3 separate regions of the Homo sapiens genome follow, and regions 2 and 3 are each reported to be linked to region 1. Evidence: microRNA targets listed by miRTarBase, many of them from high-throughput screens and not tested one by one. Region 1 holds a microRNA gene; each other region holds the end of a gene's coding sequence.

The links. Region 1 holds the annotated microRNA hsa-miR-6826-3p (CUCCCCUCUCUUUCCUGUUCAG, at 4,459-4,480, opposite strand). A microRNA usually pairs through its seed, bases 2 to 8, with sites in the 3' UTR of a target mRNA and lowers its output. Matches are read on the target gene's strand: a 7mer-m8 pairs with bases 2 to 8, a 7mer-A1 pairs with bases 2 to 7 and ends in A, and an 8mer does both.
Region 2: the mRNA of GDF6 is a reported target of hsa-miR-6826-3p. Seed matches in the 3' UTR shown: 7mer-m8 at 1,583-1,589 and 7mer-A1 at 2,207-2,213.
Region 3: miRTarBase lists MYO10 as a target of hsa-miR-6826-3p. Seed matches in the 3' UTR shown: 7mer-m8 at 4,703-4,709, 7mer-m8 at 4,473-4,479, 7mer-m8 at 3,524-3,530 and 7mer-A1 at 1,103-1,109.

The regions. Positions count from the first base shown.
Region 1 is chr3:129,270,390-129,276,701 of GRCh38, reverse strand. It overlaps MIR6826 (microRNA 6826), which reads right to left and starts at 4,556; the gene lies at 4,459-4,556. COPG1 (coat protein complex I subunit gamma 1) reads right to left here. Exons shown (of 24, transcript NM_016128.4): 19 at 4,793-4,935; 20 at 4,287-4,458; 21 at 3,798-3,895; 22 at 1,726-1,864; 23 at 1,410-1,508.
Region 2 is chr8:96,139,463-96,145,774 of GRCh38, reverse strand. It overlaps GDF6 (growth differentiation factor 6), which reads left to right. Exons shown (of 2, transcript NM_001001557.4): 2 at 251-3,442. The coding sequence ends at 1,212. Among named protein-coding and RNA genes, the nearest start is that of GDF6, 18 kb to the left of the region's middle. RefSeq lists a silencer at 90-149.
Region 3 is chr5:16,661,728-16,668,039 of GRCh38, forward strand. It overlaps MYO10 (myosin X), which reads right to left. Exons shown (of 41, transcript NM_012334.3): 41 at 180-5,066. The coding sequence ends at 4,965. Among named protein-coding and RNA genes, the nearest start is that of RETREG1, 48 kb to the left of the region's middle.

The DNA.
Region 1 (6,312 bases):
TGTCACAGAGGCTCTTGCACGTTGACTGAATCTGAGAGCACAAATGAAGGGGACAGCCCCACCACGAGAAAACCACAGGGCAGGTGTCTGCAAGACCCAGGGGACTAGGTTGTTTCAATGTGGCTACAAACTGTCAGCTGTAGGCAGGGTACTGAAGCAGAGCCTCCTTTCAACCCTGTTTATAAACACTCAGCCAAAAAAAATCATCCCATTTCCTTTTGTTAACTGTTTTAGGTATGATAATTGTATTGTCCTTTAAAAAAGGGAAGGGGTCATTCTCTCTTAGAGAAACATACAGATACAGGATTTACATATAAAATGCTATTTCTGGAGTTTGCTAGTAAATAATCTGGGAAGGAGAATGAGTGTGGGTACACTCAGCCAACCCTGTAGAAAATAAGACAAAGGATATGAAGACAATGATCAGAAAAGGAAATACAAATGCCTCAACATTTAAGAAGATACTTAACTTCATTGAAAATACAAAAACTACACTAAGATATCATTGTCCACACAGACTGGAAAAGATCATAAAGTGTGGTAACATATTATGTTGTCCACAGTGTAGGAAGAAAGGTATACAATTCTATGGAAGGCAACTTGGAGTTATTTATCAAGATGAGAAACACAAATCACTTTGAACTGGTGATGCCTTGGAAAATTTATCCTACAGATATTCTCAGTGTACACATGCAAAGTAAACTGTGTGTGTGTGTGTGTGTGTGTGTGTACACGATTATTTACTGTAACATCTGTAATAGCAAGAGATTGAAATCAAACTAAATGTTCATCAGTAGTGGCTGTTCCATAGAATATGTGGTGCATCCACACAATGGAATACTAAGCAACTATAAAAAAAATGAGGATTCAGTTTGGGATGAAAAAAGTTCTGGAGATGGATGGTGGTCATAGTTTTACAATAGTGTGAATGTACTTAATGCCGCTGAACCATACACTTGAAAATGGTCGAAATGGTGAATTTTATGTATATTTTACCACAATTAAAAGAAAAAGAATGAGGAAGCTCTACATATTGACGGGGAAGATCTCTAAGATGCAATGTAAAGTGAAAAGCAAATCGGAGGACAATATATATACCATTTGTACATAAACATTTGAGTTAAAAAAAGGAAATGCGTTCCTATTAGCTTTTATAGCCATAAAATAACCGCAAGGTTATACAAGTATTGTTTGTAATAGTAACACTGGTCGCTTCTCGGAAGGGAATCTGAATGGCTGGCAGCCAAGGTAGGGAGGAAACATTTCGCTGCAGATTATTTTATACTTTGTGAATTTTAAATGCTGTGAATTTTGACTCCCCATATTTACAGTGGAGTCCTTAGCCCAGGATCCAGTGGCATCCAGGCTGTAAGCTATCCAGGCCCTCCCCATCTAGAAATGCCACTTACCAGCCAGGAGCAACGTGTGGGTGTTCTTGTTATCCGGCACTTTGTCTGACCTCTCACAAGGGTGCATTCCCAAGAACTTCACAATATTACCCACAGCCTCTGTAATGAGAAATCCCAATATTGTTAAGCCATCTTATCTGCCCTTTGTGCCACCACCACTCCCCCATGTTCTGAAGGGCTTTTAATGAAGTGGCATTTGACATATGTGCTCCAGACATGGCCCTGGATCCTTGGAGAGAAAAGGGATGAGCACTTCAATAGTAGCCAAAGATCTTGAACAGTAATTAGGCCAGAGATGGCATTCCCAGGATTTTACCTTCAAGTGTCTTGATGGTAGACAAGGTGAACGTTTCCTCCTTCTCAAATTCATCCCCTACCTCATCCCAGGCTGCTTCGAAGTTCAGTTTCATGACCTTTTGAATGTGATCAGCTACAGTAACTTCCAGATCTTCCAGCTGGAGAGATGGAGGTAGAAATCAGGCACCCATCTACACACCTACGGGCCTCTGCTCTGAACTCATCCACACATCCCTTCCTGCAACTCTTTCCACAGGTGCTTGCTCGGCACTGAGGACTGTGCTAGACTCTGGGGACATAGAGCAACTTGACCAGGTACCTATCCTTGAGGTGCCCAAAGGCAAATGGTATCCCTTCAACAGAAAACGCCCTAATCCCAAGTACCAATCTACTAATTCAGCCTAGAGCCGCCTGCTGTGAGATCACATCTCTTCTAAGCCTGCCTAGTGTCAGTGCTTCCAGGACCTGGCATGCAGGGAATTACATAGCATTCTCAGAGGTCTGCTTCCTATGCCTGTCCCTCCTAGGGGATGATGAGCTCTTCAGGACCAGCAGCTGTTTCTAGTTCAGCAGAAACTAGCAGAAACCTCCTACCCCAGCTGTGTCCTCTGGATTTGACAGATCCTGAATCTCTATCTCCATTTCAGCTGTGTCTTCCCTGAACTTGACACATAATACTCCCACTGAGTCTACATGAAGGTTCCCCATTCATTCTCCCATCAGATTTTCACTGAGGCCCTACTCCTGTGGATGTTTACAGTGTATATAAATACAACTTAGACCCAGCTCTCTCTCTCTTTTTTTTTTTTCTTCATCTCTGGATGGGCTCAAACAGACCCAGCTCTCTCAAGGAGCTCACTTGGTCTTAGAGCAGCTCCTGCCTCGGGGTCATTTCCAGCTCAAGGAAGGTCCATCCATCCTCAACTGTGACTCTAGGATGACACAATGGCGAATGTCAGTTGTATTCCACTGTGACTGTCCCTCTAGTCAGGAGGAGTTCTAACAGTCCCCATCCACAGGCTGAGCATAATGGTCTGCACTCAGATGGCCCTGAGCCACTGCCCCAAAGTCAGACCTCAGAAGGATCCTGTACTTAGTTCCACCGAGCTAAGATAGGAGAATTTAGAAGGGCTATTCCAGTGCATGAAAGGACTGCCCAGCACAGCAAACAGGTCAAATTTATCCAGAAAGCATTTGACAAGAGGAATCAAAATGTCTTAAAATCATGCTTACCCTTTGACCCAACTATTCTCCTTCTAGGAATCTATCCTAAAGAAATAATCTAAAATGCAGATAAAAATTTGTATCTAAAGGGATATTTAATGCAGCAATATAAATAGTGAAAATATGGAAACCCAAATGCCCAACATTAAAGGAGTGAAAAGTCAATCAAGTTTTGACATAGTATATAACAGTATTTTAAATCCACTAAAAAAATTGTGTTTATGAAGTATTTGTAATGATACTGGAAAATACACTATGGTTTTAAAATAGCAAGGTCTACACTGTAAGAATGATTTCAATTATACCACTTCCCCCCAAAAATAACTCTAAGGATTATGAGTAATGTTTTCCTGTTGTTCATACTTTGTTTTGAATTTTGTTTTTGTATTTCCCAAGTTTTCTTTTTACACATGAACATGTATTTCCATAAGTTTAAAAAGTTATTTTAGGCCGGGCGCGGTGGCTCACGCCTGTAATCCCAACACTTTGGGAGGCCAAGGTAGGTGGATCACCTGAGGTGAGGAGATCGCGACCAGCCTAGCCAACATGGTGAAACCCTATCTCTACCAAAAATACAAAAAATTTGGCAGGCATGGTGGTGGGCGCCTGTAATCCCAGCTACTTGGGAGGCTGAGGCAAGAGAATCGCTTGGACCAGGGAGACAGAGGTTGCAGTGAGCCGAGATCGCGCCACTGCACTCCAGCCTGGGTAACAAAAGAGAAACTTCATCTCAAAAAATAAAAATAAAAAAATAAAATTTTAAAGAGCTAAAAAGCCAAAAACAGCTCCAGTCTCACTGTCAGTTCCTGAAGGGAGTTGCTTTGCAGCCTCAGCACAAAACTGAGCTTCCTGACACCAGGATCTTACCACATACTCATCCTCATAGCCTTCGTCATCAGTCTCCCCAGTGGTGGGATCACAGTCCTTGACAGTGAACTTCATCATGCAGCTGAATGTGCAGGCCACTGTGGGGAAGAGAGGCTGGGTAGTTAGGATGTCCCCAGCCTGCAGGGGATGGGCTCCTCCTGCAGGGGACAAGCAGGCAGGGGTCACAGCCTGCTTTCTAGGCCCCTGCTATGTTATTAGTAGCAGCAACAAGCCATCCAATCCCACAAAGCTGGACAGAGGGTGCCACCTTGTAGGACAGGAAAGTCATGAGTTCTAGTGAGATCCTGTCTCTTTAAAAAAAAAAATTTTTAAAGAAGAGCACTTGGGACTCAGCTATTCTTCTTCTTGGGACTGAAATCAAGGAGCTGAAGCTCTAATAGAAGGCAAACAGCTGGTGCCCAGCCGCCCACCTCCTCCTGACCCCATGAGCTCCCAGGAGGATAGGGTGGTATCTGGAGAGGGGCTCACCAGCTGTGGGGTCTTCTTTGGGCAGTGCCACCAGTGTGTAGCAGGTCCCGGGCTGGTTGTAGGGCAGGCTCCGGGCAGGCACGTAACAGAGCACCTCATAGGCCTCAGTGGGCTCCATCTGCACTGTGACATTCTCCAAGGTCTGGTCATTGAGTGTGTTTGTGCAGTCAAACTGAACAGGAAAGAGAGGGGAGCTTAAACATTGCACTAGGTCCGAGCCATGCTGCAGAGGAAAAGCCAGGAGGTCCCACCTCTTTCCTATTGACCAAGGTGATTCCCATCCCAGTCCCCCTGCCCCAGGTTCCCTGTCTTCATGCTGACAATCGGGAGCCATGGATGTCCCGAGTCAAGAGATATGAGAGACCGACCTGTTGGGGACAGATTCTGTCATCAAGTTGGGCTCCCAACCAATGCAGTGTGGGGACCCATGACCCTACAGGACCTGCCAGACCTGGGACAACTCCCTGGGCGCATGCCCCAGCAGGGCCTCAGCCCACCTTGCTCACCTGAAAAACCATGTGGTTGGTGAAGGTGTGTTTGGTGCAGCGGATGACATACTCCGTCTCTGACTCGGTGAGGGCCACGGGCTCAGGCGAGGACTTGAAGAGGGGCCCAAGACCGCGGAACTCTGGCACTGCTGCCAACTGCTCTGAAATCCACAGGCCACATTCACTCAGCTTCTCGATCCCCAGACCAACTTGTTGATGGTTTCTAATAAATTCCCATGACCATTCTCAAGGTGTTCCACCCTACCTTAGATGGATAGATATGTTTACCCAACTGGCTACTCATTATTTCCTGAATATATCCATGCATTTTCTCATCTCCCTGACTTCGCTCATGTGGCACAACCCCCCACAAATACTCTCCCCATCTCTGTACCATGAAAGACCTCAGAAGCAAAAAACTGATATGAGACCACAAAATCCTAGACCTAATTGGAGAATCCCCCAGCTATAGAAGCTTAGCAAGGATTTCCGCCCCCTACCGCAGCAAGGATTCTTAAAAGAAGGTGACAATTAGGAAAATAAGATCGATACTGCTATAGCTACAAAATCAGACAAAATAACAAACTGGTCCTATATATTTATCAGTTAAGACAAATGGCCAATAAAGAGATATTTCAGAATGAGAGTGTTGCAGAAAACCTAACTTAGAATTGTTTGTGTCTGGTAAGACCTATCCCTACACCCTATGCCCAGGTTCAAGCACTGGATTCAAGCACAGGCCCATGGGACCCCACCCTGGCTGGTCCTGGCATTCCTTGCAAACTAAAGGGAATAACCCAAGTGAATGAGGCATCTGGCAGATGTGTGCACATGGTGTCCACCTATAATGGCTACAGCTGCCACTCTTGTACCTATTCTATGGCAGGATTCCTCGCACTATGACCATGGATCAACTGTATCAGAATTACTAGGGGTTGGCGGCAGAGCTTGCTAAAAACTCAGACTCCATCCCAAATCTACTACATCAGAATCTCTGGTTTCAGGATCAAGGAATTTGCATTTCTAACATGTTTCCTCAGATTATTCCAATATATACTGATATTTAAAGACCACTGCTCTAAGATTTTCAACTTGTCTTCCCAATTAATTGAACTCCATGAGAACAGGGATTGTGCTTTGAGGCCATGGATCTGATATTTTTCCCTTTACTTAGAAGGTACTCAATTCACGTTTCAGACATAGAGAAAGGTAGGCCTTATTTTTATTATTTTGCTTTTTTCCTCCACAAAAAGTCAGCCTATGTGACCACTTCAGCCCTCTGCAGCCTGAAGACTGAATCTAATGAATATGCAGGCAATAAAAAGCCCAGAACAATCCAGGCTAGATATTAGGAGGAACTTTTGGGCCACCATGACCATCAACCACTAGAGTGCTTTTCTATTGATATTTATTTTCTTGGGACTCAGAGTTTTGGGCCTGATACTTACTCCCTGGGGGATTCTGTTGGTAGGGTTTCAGACTCTTCATCAATAAAACTGATATCATTATCTTGATCACAGCGTTGTTGTAAAGACAAA
Region 2 (6,312 bases), not on the chromosome of region 1:
CAGCCACCGACTTCCGCCCTGAGAGTCCGGAGCTGACGCGAAGGAGGGGGCCCGTCCTGGCGCGCCCCCTTCCCCGCGCCATGCACCAGCCAGATGGGGAGCCGGGGTGGTCAGGCCCTGGGCCGGGCAAGCTGGACTGCCCGGCCGACCTGCCCCCACTCCCCGCCCTTTTCCTCCCGGGGCGGCCGAAGAGCACCGGGCTGATCTCCCCCTTAAGTGAAACTGACTGTAATTATTTTTTATCTCGCAGACGATCTCTCGCACACTCCTCTCCGGAGACAGAAGTATTTGTTTGATGTGTCCATGCTCTCAGACAAAGAAGAGCTGGTGGGCGCGGAGCTGCGGCTCTTTCGCCAGGCGCCCTCAGCGCCCTGGGGGCCACCAGCCGGGCCGCTCCACGTGCAGCTCTTCCCTTGCCTTTCGCCCCTACTGCTGGACGCGCGGACCCTGGACCCGCAGGGGGCGCCGCCGGCCGGCTGGGAAGTCTTCGACGTGTGGCAGGGCCTGCGCCACCAGCCCTGGAAGCAGCTGTGCTTGGAGCTGCGGGCCGCATGGGGCGAGCTGGACGCCGGGGAGGCCGAGGCGCGCGCGCGGGGACCCCAGCAACCGCCGCCCCCGGACCTGCGGAGTCTGGGCTTCGGCCGGAGGGTGCGGCCTCCCCAGGAGCGGGCCCTGCTGGTGGTATTCACCAGATCCCAGCGCAAGAACCTGTTCGCAGAGATGCGCGAGCAGCTGGGCTCGGCCGAGGCTGCGGGCCCGGGCGCGGGCGCCGAGGGGTCGTGGCCGCCGCCGTCGGGCGCCCCGGATGCCAGGCCTTGGCTGCCCTCGCCCGGCCGCCGGCGGCGGCGCACGGCCTTCGCCAGTCGCCATGGCAAGCGGCACGGCAAGAAGTCCAGGCTACGCTGCAGCAAGAAGCCCCTGCACGTGAACTTCAAGGAGCTGGGCTGGGACGACTGGATTATCGCGCCCCTGGAGTACGAGGCCTATCACTGCGAGGGTGTATGCGACTTCCCGCTGCGCTCGCACCTGGAGCCCACCAACCACGCCATCATCCAGACGCTGATGAACTCCATGGACCCCGGCTCCACCCCGCCCAGCTGCTGCGTGCCCACCAAATTGACTCCCATCAGCATTCTATACATCGACGCGGGCAATAATGTGGTCTACAAGCAGTACGAGGACATGGTGGTGGAGTCGTGCGGCTGCAGGTAGCGGTGCCTTTCCCGCCGCCTTGGCCCGGAACCAAGGTGGGCCAAGGTCCGCCTTGCAGGGGAGGCCTGGCTGCAGAGAGGCGGAGGAGGAAGCTGGCGCTGGGGGAGGCTGAGGGTGAGGGAACAGCCTGGATGTGAGAGCCGGTGGGAGAGAAGGGAGCGCAGCCTTCCCAGTAACTTCTACCTGCCAGCCCAGAGGGAAATATGGATTTTCACACCTTGCCTGGCCACCCTGGAAAAACAAGCCAAGGAGGATTTCTTTTGTTCTGTTTTCTCTCTCTCTCTCTCTCTCTCTCTCTCTCTCTCTCTCTCTCTCTCTATTACTGTGGCTTTGGATTTCCTTATGTGTCTTACAGGCTTTGATAGAAGGGGAGGGGAGGAGAGATGCATACCCGTTTCTCAACTGCTCCATGGATTGAAAAAATAACAGTTTAAAAAGGGAAACAATGTGGGAGGAAGAATCACCGTTGACGCATCTTGATTTGGTTGGTTTTTACATGTGTAAAGAAGGTGGGGTCTCTGGCCATGTCATAGCCCATGTCTTGTGCCCTCCCACACAGAAAGTGTTAGATAGGGAAATTGGCAAAAAGAATAGTTAAGTCAGGAATGGTCCTGCCTATAGAAGAGCTTTGAGAGAGGTGGGCCCACGGGTGCCCCTCTCACCCATTTGTGTACTCTGTGAGTTTACCAGCTCTGCCCTGGCCTCTTTCGGTACCAGGAACTGGCAACCTTCATCTCACTCCTGAGGGCCCAGGTCTCTGCCTTCATTGTTGCTTTTTCTGGTGGGGGCAAGGGGAGCTGGTATGGATGGAATGACAAGAATTAGTCCAAATGGAACCCCTTGAAGGATAATGAGAAACCACAAGGCCTGCCTCTGACTGGGGCTGACACGGAGGTGCATTAGCCCAGGCTGGAGGTAGCCCACCCAAATGCCCTTTCTGATTCTAATTGATTTCTTTCAACAGAATTTGCCAAAATTCAGACATGCACTTCTAAGGGGAAGGTGATTTTCCAGTTCAAAAAAATGGGCAGGAGTGGGGAACAAAACAATTAACGTAAGAGCTACAAAGGAGGGAAAAGGAACCAAGAAGTAGAAGGAGTCCCATCAGGAGGGAAGATGGTGGGCCTCAGGGAGGATGGGGATCAAGGGACAGGCCAGGAGCCAGGAGTGGGGAAGGGAGGGATGAAAGGGGACACAAGTCCCTGTCTCTGAAGTTTCTTTAAAATCTGAGTTCCCTCCCCTCTCTTTGACATTCCTGAAAGATTACCAGCCAGCAATAGCCCAGGGCTCCCCCAAAAGAATTGGTTCAGATTGTAATTATCAGTTAGGCAATGTTTTTAAAACTTAGTAATGAGAAACTGTGAAAAGAGCCAAGTGTTACATTGAGCTTGGGGTGGGAGATGGGGAACAGGCAGTGAGGAAGGAGACAGGGGTGGAATTCGTCTTCTGGGAGGAAGCTGGAGAGAGCACAGTGAAATTGAAATACCCATTCCCAGATAGTCAAAAACATGAACTTTCCCCCAGCCTGCACCAGTATTGTTTTCAAACATTGCCCATGAGTAGGCCCTTTGAAGAGTTAGCTTCCTCCTCATCTTTGACTATAAAATTGTTTAATCAATGGAATTTGTACCAGCCTTTTAAAAAGTTTTAGTTTTTCCTAAGTGATTTTGCTCTCTTCCAATCTAAACCTGTTGCTTGTTTGGTTCAGAGAACTACAAACTGTCAAAGAAAGGGTGGGGATGATAAGAAATGCTAATATAAAAATGCTAAGTGAAAAAAAGACTTGGCCAGGAGAAATAATTTAAAATGCACATTTGCTTTGGATGCACTGTTGTTCTGTTAAGGCTGTATATATTTGTTTATTTAAGGTGACTGAAAGTGCAAAGAGGAAATGGACAGCATGCAATTCATCCTAATGTACAAAACGTTATATGCACTCAAATGTTATAATTTCTAATATTTTTAAAGTTTATATTCGAGTTGTACAAAGTTAAGCATTAATCAGATATTTCATTTTTTCATAATGTTACCATTTTCTTAAATATTATTACAAAATTTTAAGTCTGTCTAATGGAGAGTTTTTTTTAAACTGTCTACCTCATATAATACAAGTATTTACAACGCTAAAGTTACCAGAGGTCAATGAATAATCAAAACATTTTTTACAGTACACCTTTCCTGGATGATATGCAATCGAATGCTATATTATTAAACGCATTTTTCTCCTTAATAACTCAGCCTGGTTTATATGGATCGATTTAGAAAAATCCTTTTCTCACAGAATTATTGTCAGAGGTAGTTTGTTCCAGTTTGGGACTCAATGCCTGAAAACAAACTGATGATTTTAAAAATCTATCATTTAGAGCATTACACTTTTTCTTCATAACTCTTCAATAACTCCTTTTTCATGACATTTTTATTACTAGAATAAAGCCAAATCCTTGTCACCTATTAGACCAGTGTTTATAAGCCTGTCCCTCATCCCAGCACTTCAGGAATCCAAATAGAAATTGGATTATTTCTTAGTTGCTTTAATGTTGAAAAAAACAAAGCAGTAATGTTGAGGTAAGAAAGTGGTTACCTAAGTCAACCAAGATGTCAGTGTAATTACTCATTACCTTTGTGGCATACTGGAAGCAGAAGATACAAATGTTTTTCTGTGCTTGCTGTGAATTGGGGAACTCATGTGTGAATGTGAGCACTCACTCTATCAGGCATGATGTTATTCTACACATGTAGAATCTCATTTAAAACCCTCAGAGGTAGATATTATTATAATCCCCATTTTACAAATGAGGAAACCAAGGTGCAGAGAATTTAAGTAACCTGCCTGTGGGCATCCAGCCAGGGAATTGTAGTTAGGATTTAAAATTAGTTCATTCAGACTCTAGAGCCTGAGGAGTTAACCACTGTACAATTCTGTCCCCAGATCATCTACCTGCTCTCTGATTGGTCCCTAAATATTGACGTGGGGAATGTGCAGTTAGCTACAATCCTTAGGGTTGGTCAGCTGGCGGAGGAGGAAATGGTACAGAGGCCAGCAGCATTGCCTGAAGTTTTGGAGTGTGTGAATTGTAACTGCTGGCATAAGGGCAGCTGAAAAATGGGTATGGGTTGCAAAACTCCTTGAATTCTTAGCTTTGGGCTTGGCCCAGTAAACTTACAGTTTAAGCCATTACTGGGCTTTGGCTCTCTACTCTTTGCTGGGACTGCCCTGGGTGTGATTTTTATGAGTTTTGGTTATCAACACAATAGTCAATTTACAAATAGGTCATGTTTCAAAAAACTGGTTGCAAGTGGACCCTTAGAACTAAGAAACACTTTCCCGTGGACACGGTGATTGTTTGAGTTTCCAGGTCATTTTGCAGAAACTTTATTTACCCAAATGGAGCTTTTTAACAAAGCAATTTTGACTTCTGAGTTTTGAGAGGATGTAATCACCTGGGAAAGTGGAAAAGAGACTGTCTTTTCTGGGTGGAAGCTGCTTTTGAAATCGTTGAGAATTCTTTGCATTTTTGCACCACTCTTTTTATACCTGGCACCCAATTTGCCCAAGCTCACGAATGCCCTGAGGACTACCAGACTTGTACTTTAATATGTTCCCAATCCAGAGATTTCCCTTTTCTGAACAAATATTTTCATGTCTAAAGTTATTTTTCTTTCTTTCCTCTATTAGTTTATTCCTTAACTCAGGTGTTAGGAAAAACACAATCTGATTGAATTGCATGAAAATGTAAATATCTCCTAGCCTTTAACCTTAGAGAGATTTGTATTTTAAGAAGAAAATCTTGGTTAACTCAGATTTTTTGGGAATGATGTGAAAAACTCCAGAACATAGAGGAGAAGATTCAACACTCAAGCTACACACAATTTTGAGAGTTAAACGTGAATGAGGCACTAGTGATAAAAGAATGAATAGAGACACTTGTCAATGTGAGTTTTTGGTGTCCCTTAGGAGAAATTCTGTGCAATAAAGAGGCTATTTATGGCAGTTTGTTTTATTGTTAATATCTAACATATTAAAGCAAAGAATTTAATAACTTAGTTTTTAAATTTTCTCTAAAGCTTTTAAGTTTAATGTGTCCAGGCCCCATTATGATATGTTTTTGCCCTTGTTTTGCTCATTGCTATATTCCTAGCACCCAGAATAGTGCCTAACACCTAGCAGACACCCAGTAAATATTCTGAATGAATACATTACAAATCCTAGTCTACTTGTAAATCTAGAAATTTTGACAGTCACTTTCAAGGGAGCCTTTGATTGATGTCTTCAACTCACATTGAATGGACCAACCTCCCTTAATTAACCAATTCTAGTTTCAACCTAGTTAATAAACTTCCTTTAACTATTGTACATTGCTTTTATGAGCTTAATATATCCCATTTTCTTTTTAAGGCACTTCAAATTTCTTTAATGGGAAAAACCTTCCAATATACTTAAACCATTCCAAGTAAAGCTAATACACTAAACTTCTAAAGATGGTGATTCATAAGTTCTATTAAGCATCCCAATGTAGTTTATACCTTTTGACTCAACATCAGGAACCTACAATTAATTACTCAACTACCCATTTAAATTGGTGTTAGAGGCTAACCTGTTAGGTATCTTAATAAAGTACATTTTTAAAGCTCGCAAACATTTTATTTATTTATTTATTATTTTTGGAGATGGAGTCTCACTCTGTTGCCCAGGCTGGAGTGCAGTGGTGCGATCTCAGCTCACTGAAACCTCTGCCTCCTGGGTTCAAGCGGTTCTCCCTCCTCAGCCTCCTCAGTAGCTGGGATTACAGGTGCTCGCCACCACGCCCGTCTAATTTTTGTATTTTAGTAGGGCTAATTTTTGTATTTTTAGTAGAGAGGAGATTTTGCCATGTTGGCCAGGCTGGTCTTGAACTCCTGACCTTAGGTGATCTGCCCACCTCAGCCTCCCAAAGTGCTGGACTTACAGGCATGCCCAGCCACAAATATTTTAAATACCAAATATATATAGATTGTCCCAATTATTACAAAAACTATTTTTGAACTTAATACAAAATTGTTAATAGTTTAAATTTGATTTACCTAATCTCTGTACTTCATTCTAAAATATCTTTGGGTTAA
Region 3 (6,312 bases), not on the chromosome of region 1:
TTGCTTCTAAAGGAAACATACTTCCATAATTACCTGCAACAGAAGTCAGCACATTCTTTCTATGAAGAACCAGAGAGTAAATATTGTCAGCTTTGTAGGGGGCCTCTGTTGCAACTACTCATCTCTGCTGTTGTGGTACAAATGCATACATAGACAAACCATCCACAAATACACAGAGATCTGTTTCAATAAAACTTTATTCACAAAAACAGGTGGCAGGGTAGATTTGGTCTCTGTACTGTAGTTCACTGACCCCTGATCTAAAAGATTACATACTTTGAAAACAGCAATGCCAAACCTTGAATCCAGGTCCGATATTTTCCAGCAATCGTGATGCTTCTCTGATCAACTGAATGAAACAGTTATAAATGTACTGGCTAAATTTAGCTTTATGCACTTGTTTTGTCCCCTATTACAGTATAAACTTTTGGTGAATAGGGATTTTCAAATTAATTAAAGCGCTTATTTTTATACCCAATACACACAAATACAGAACTTTACTATAGCAGATTTTTGACCCCAATTTAGTGTGCTATCTGAATAAAAGGCTTAGTAACTAAAAAAAGTGCTGTCTTAGATTTCTGAACTATTTTTTTTTTTTTTTTTTTTTTTTGGAGACAGAGTCTTGCTCTGTCACCCACACCAGAATGCAGTGGCACCATCATGGCTCCCTGCAGCTTTGACCTCCTGGGTTCAAACGATTTTCTCATCTCAGCCTCCCCAGTAGCTGGGACTACAGATGCGCACCACCACACCTGGCTAATGTTAATTTTCTGTGGAGACAGGGTCTTGTCATGTTGCCCAGACTGGTCTTGAACTCCGGAGCTCAAGCGATCCTCTTGCCTCGGCCTTCCAACATGCTGGGATTACAGGCGTGAGCCAGCATGCCTGGCTGAAACTATTTTTACAGAGAACTTAGGTGGTGATATGGTTTGGCTCTGTCCCCACCCAAATCTCATCTTGAATTATAGCTCCCATAATCCCCACCTGTCACGGGAGGGACCTGATGGGAGGTAATTGAATCATGGGGGTGGGTTTTCCCATGCTGTTCTTGTCCATAGTGAGTATGTCTCGGAAGAGCTAATGGTTTTATAAAAGGGAGTTCCCCTGTGCAAGCTCTCTTGCCTGCTGCCATATAAGATGTGCCTTTTCTCCTCCTTTGCTGTCCACCATGATTGTGAGGCCTCCCCAGGCATGTGAGACTGAGTCCATTCAACTTCTTTTTCTTTATAAATTACCCAGTCTCAGGCATGTCCTTCTAGCAGTGTGAGAATGGACTAATACAGATGGCCTTATCCTGTTTTTCCACAGAGCTATCTGAGGTACTATATAATCATCAAAAAGAATAAGGCAATTCTATAGGTATTAATGTAGGATTAGAGCTAAAATACTATGCTGAGAAAAAAGTAAGCTACAACAGTTTGTTTCCATCTATTAAAAATGAGGATGGGGATATATATGTATGTATGAGTAAATGATTGGACAGCTTAAATTATTTTTGAGAGAATATTCAATAAAACAGTAAAAATAGCTGTTTCTGGGAAAGGAAAATGGGTAATTAGGGCTACAGCTGGAAAAAAGTAACATTTTACTTCTAGTTGTTTTTTTTTTTTTTTTTTTTTTTTTTTTTTTTTTTTTTTACAAATCACCTATATGTATTAGCTTTCAAAAGATTTAAAAATTAAAAATACTAGATTGTCAGCGTCTGAAGTGATAAAATACTTTATGCTGGTGCCTCCTCAGTAACAGACATTCAAAACTACAGTCAGCCCTCAGTGTTCATGTGGTCTGAATCCAACCACAGATAGAAAATATTTGAAAAAACTTTTTTTGGTGGGGCACAGTGGCTCACACCTGTCATCCTAGCACTTTGGGAGGCTGAGGTGGAGGACTGCTTGAGCCCAGGAGGTTGAGGCTGCAATGAGCTGTGACTGTGCCTCTGCACTGTAGCCTGGTGACAGAGTGAGACCCTGTCTCAAATAAACAATGTTTAAAACACAGACACACACGGTATAACAGCTATTTATGCAGCATTTATGTTGTGCTAGGTATCTGTAACCTGGAGATGATTTAAAGGGTAAGGAAAGATGTGTGCAGGTTCTATGCAAATATTATACCACTGTATAGCAGGGACTTGAGCATCTGTGAATTTTGTATCCTCAGGGGTGGGGGGAGGGGGTCCTGGAACCAATCTCCCTTGGATACCAAGGGACGACTGCACTTCACTGACCTTGTTGAAAGCAACTGACATCACACACACCAATGAGTGCATGTAAAAGCAGTAAAATTGGAATAGGTTCTGTGGCTAGGGGAAGCTCAACGGTACTTTGTCAGCTGTGATGCTGCTCTACAGTGATGGGGGATGCTACCACTGGGGAAACTGAAGGGCACGCAGGCCTCCCTGTACGTTCTGTTGCAACTTTCTCTGAGTCTGTAATTATTTCTAAATAAAAGGCTAAAACAAAACCACAACTATGCCATGTAAAGGCTCACATGTAAATCTATGTTCTAACTATGGTGCTGCTCTAACCCCCCCAATCTGAGTCATGCCTTTCCTTGCCTATTTCCCCATCTATAATTGAGGGCGGGCGACAGCCTTCCAGAGTAAATTAAGTCACAGAGGGAATCCTGAGAGGTGAGCAGTAGAAAGAAGACTTCTGTCAAATTCTTTCTGAGCCTAAAATAAAAACAAAGACAACACACATCCAAGTCTTTGCCGGCTTTCCTTGGGTGCCTGGCGGGGCCACAGGCTTCAGGCAGCACCTGGCTTCAGGTTCCATCCCAATCCCTGCAGAATGGGAAGAAGCCATCCGTGAGCATGAGCAGAGGGTGGGAGTCAGTGGTCTGCAAGAGAAGTGGCGCTTGCTCATGCTAGACGCCTGGCCTGGTGGTTTGGGTACATTGGCAACCAAACTGCCTACCTGTGTGTTCTGGTCCACAGGGAGGTGCAGGCAGGTTCTAGGATCCAGGGTTGCAAGATCAGGCACACTTTGGGGCTGACATAGGGGACTGTCTGACATAAACACATTTCAAGTCCTCAGCTGTGTGTGACTTCATTTACCAGTCCCTTCTTTTGCTTTCTTGAAGTCACACTCAGTGTCTACAAGAGCAGTGGAGACAGCTGCAGATCTGTGTTTAGACCTGATGAGCAAGTCCATGAAACAAACACAAAGCCCAGACACTGAAACCATAGCATTAACACCAAAAAGCCGGCCGGGTGCGGTAGCTCACACCTGTAATCCCAGCACTTTGGGAGGCTGAGGCAGGTGGATCGAGACCAGCCTGGCCAACATGGTGAAACCCCATCTCTACTAAAAATACAAAACCTAGCCAGGCGTGGTGATGCATGCCTGTACTCCCAACTCCTTGGGAGGCTGAGGCAGGAGAATCGCTAGAACCCAGGAGGCAGAGGCTGCAGTGAGCCGAGATCACGCCACTGTACTCCAGCCTGGGTAACAGAGTGAGACTCTGTCTCTAAAGAAAAAAAAAAAAAACCACCAAAAAGCCAAAACAAAAATAAGCCTCCCCTCCATGGTTTTTAGAGCCTCCTCTGATAAAGGAAACACACAGCGTGTTAGCTAGTATCTTTTATTGTCAGAACTTCTGTGAGCCAACAAACAGTTTTGCATGGTTGTACACAAAGGGACAAGGCAAATTTCTTTTTTCGTGTGGGTAGACTTAGTTGGCCCAAGTCCTTAAAACTTTTCCATATAAAAATAAAAAGTCCAAGACCAGATTATTTTTCTTCTGGTCATAAATGCTGATTTATTTACAGGTGCCTTGTTCAGACCACCATTATAAACTTGGGATAAAATATGTGTGTATTAAAGCCTCAGCATTTAATGTCAGGGTCCTTTGAAGATTCACTCAAGTGTTAAGACGTTTCTGGAATGCAGCGTCTCTCCCCCATAGTCAACATGGTTATTATATCTGTAATCTATCCAGAATGATAGAAGCTAACCTTCCAAGTAACACTTTGTTTTTAACTTAAATCTTTTAGACATGAAAGACTCCAAAATGACTTCATTCTTGTTCTAAAACCAGCACTGGAGCCAGCTGTTGAAGAGTGGTTTATAAATACAGTTATCTTGTAGGCTGCTTATCTGTTTATAATACAGCAGACACAGATGGCAGACTTTGCTACATGTAAAACAATGGAGTCAACACGTGTTTTTCAAAATACAGCAAAGACAGGAAAATCCAGGATTTGGGTTTGTTAATAAAACCACCTTATAAAGTAACAATTGAGACTATAGCTCTGCATTATTAAAATATACAGACTGTGTACACCATTACACATCCTTTTTCCCTTTGCTTTTTAATGCTCATGAAACCATGATTAAAGTGTTGAGTTTATGAACACATGCACGAACAGGCAAGCACGTACACTTAAAAGATGAAACAAAGAAAAAAGTTGATTCATGTCATTCCATGAGAAAGGCTGCCCGCAGCACTCCAGCTCAAACACACTGTCCCCTCGAGCTCTCCATCCCCCTTCCCACTCCCTCACCTTCCCTCAGATTCGGGGAAATCAGGTTGGGAGGTTAGTGCATCATTGACAGAGAATGCCCCCCTTCCACGCTCTGTTAAGTCTCCCCCAGAAGGGGGAAAGGCAGTTCCCTTCAGTAGCACAGTTACGGTCGATTAGTGTTGGTTCCACAAGTTAAGGCACTTCCGGCTGCTTTGGTGGCAGCGTGGTTCCTCCCCTCCTTTTTTAAGGCATGTGTCCTCTAAGAGTAGTAAAGCTTTGGAAACTGTGCAGACTGTTAAAGTTGACAGCTTAATACAGGATCAATGAAGGCGGCAGGCAAAAGGATCCTCGGAGACACCTCCCTCAGACCAGAAGCTTCCAGAAAGCCTGGGCAGCTCTGTGTTTGTTTTGGCTGGGCATGGCACACTGGAGCCAGCCTAGGCCAGAGGGTGGTGCGTTCAGGTAGCAAAGACAGGTGGGCTCTGTCCCGCCTTCACCTGGAGCTGCCCTGGCTGCTGGCGGAGCGTGTCGTGCTGTAGCGCTTCTTCACGATCATGCTGATGTAGGCTTTCATGAGCTTGGCCACATCCACCACCTGCCCAGGGGGAAGCAGAACCGACACAGCGTCACAAGTCTCCCCCAGGCAAAGGGCCCTGCCTAATAATCCAGACATTCCCTGGGCACCCTCCCGTAGCCTTCCATGCTAATCGACGGATCCCATTTTGCAGGAAGCCAGAAGTTTAACCACTTTCACCTTCCTCATCAGGGAAAGGTGGAATCTCAGCTTTTCCAAATACAATGTGCACCACCTGGTGGCACAAACGTGCCAACTTGGCTTGATGGAAACTGTCAGACTTTGCACATTAAAATCCAGAACTAACCGAGGACGCTGAAGTTACTCGGTGTCAACAGTGCTGGGATTACTATCCCCGCTTAAAATAAATGTGAAATGACAGAGTCCACAATTACAGCCTTTAAAGACTGGATCATCTAATTCTAGTCAACTCCTTAGGAAGCAGCTGAAGAAACAAGATAACTGAGGCCCCAGGGGCTGGGAGAGCGGCCAGCTCCCCAGACGCCAGGCCAGCTTCTGCTCCACACCAGCCACCTCCTCCAGCTGGGATCTCCATTAGCTCCCTCCCATGATGTCCCCGTCATTGCCACCCCTTCTCACAGCTGGCCTGGATCCCTGTGCAGGCATCATAACCGGCTTCCATATCCCTGTTTGCTCTCTTCCCTTCCAGTCCCACCCCAGAGATCACTGTCTGTAAATTCACTGTTATGCCATGCACAATCAAAGATCCCACAGTGGTTCCTTGTTGTCTACTGGATCTCACCAAATCCTGCAGCCTGGCACCTGGGACCCTTGAGTCAAGGGCTCTCCACCCTCTTCCCTCTCACTGCACGACTCCCCATCAGCCTAGGGAACCTACAATGCCACATCCTCCAAGCAGCTGGAACGCCCTCCTCAATGCCTCTCCATTCCAAACCAGGCAGCAGGTGATTCCTCTCCACTCACCACGTTGACTTGCTAGCTGTTCCCTTTGTGGAAGCCTCAATAAGCTTCTTGTATTATATTTTTTAAACTTGGAGGCTGGTAGCACATATATTTAGAGGCCTTTTAGTGTGTGTGGTTTCACAATCCAGAATGAGCTGCACCCAGGATGGTCATGCTCCCGGCTCCCTCCTGGTCTCAAGAGGCCACCAGAGCCGAGTCTCACAGCTGTGACACCGCTATAATTGCTAACTAATTTTCATAAGGTTTTGTTGCAAATAATATACTTTTTCAGGGACATCTATGTCACTTCCCTTTCTCTGCCTTTCCTCCAAGGGTAAGACTC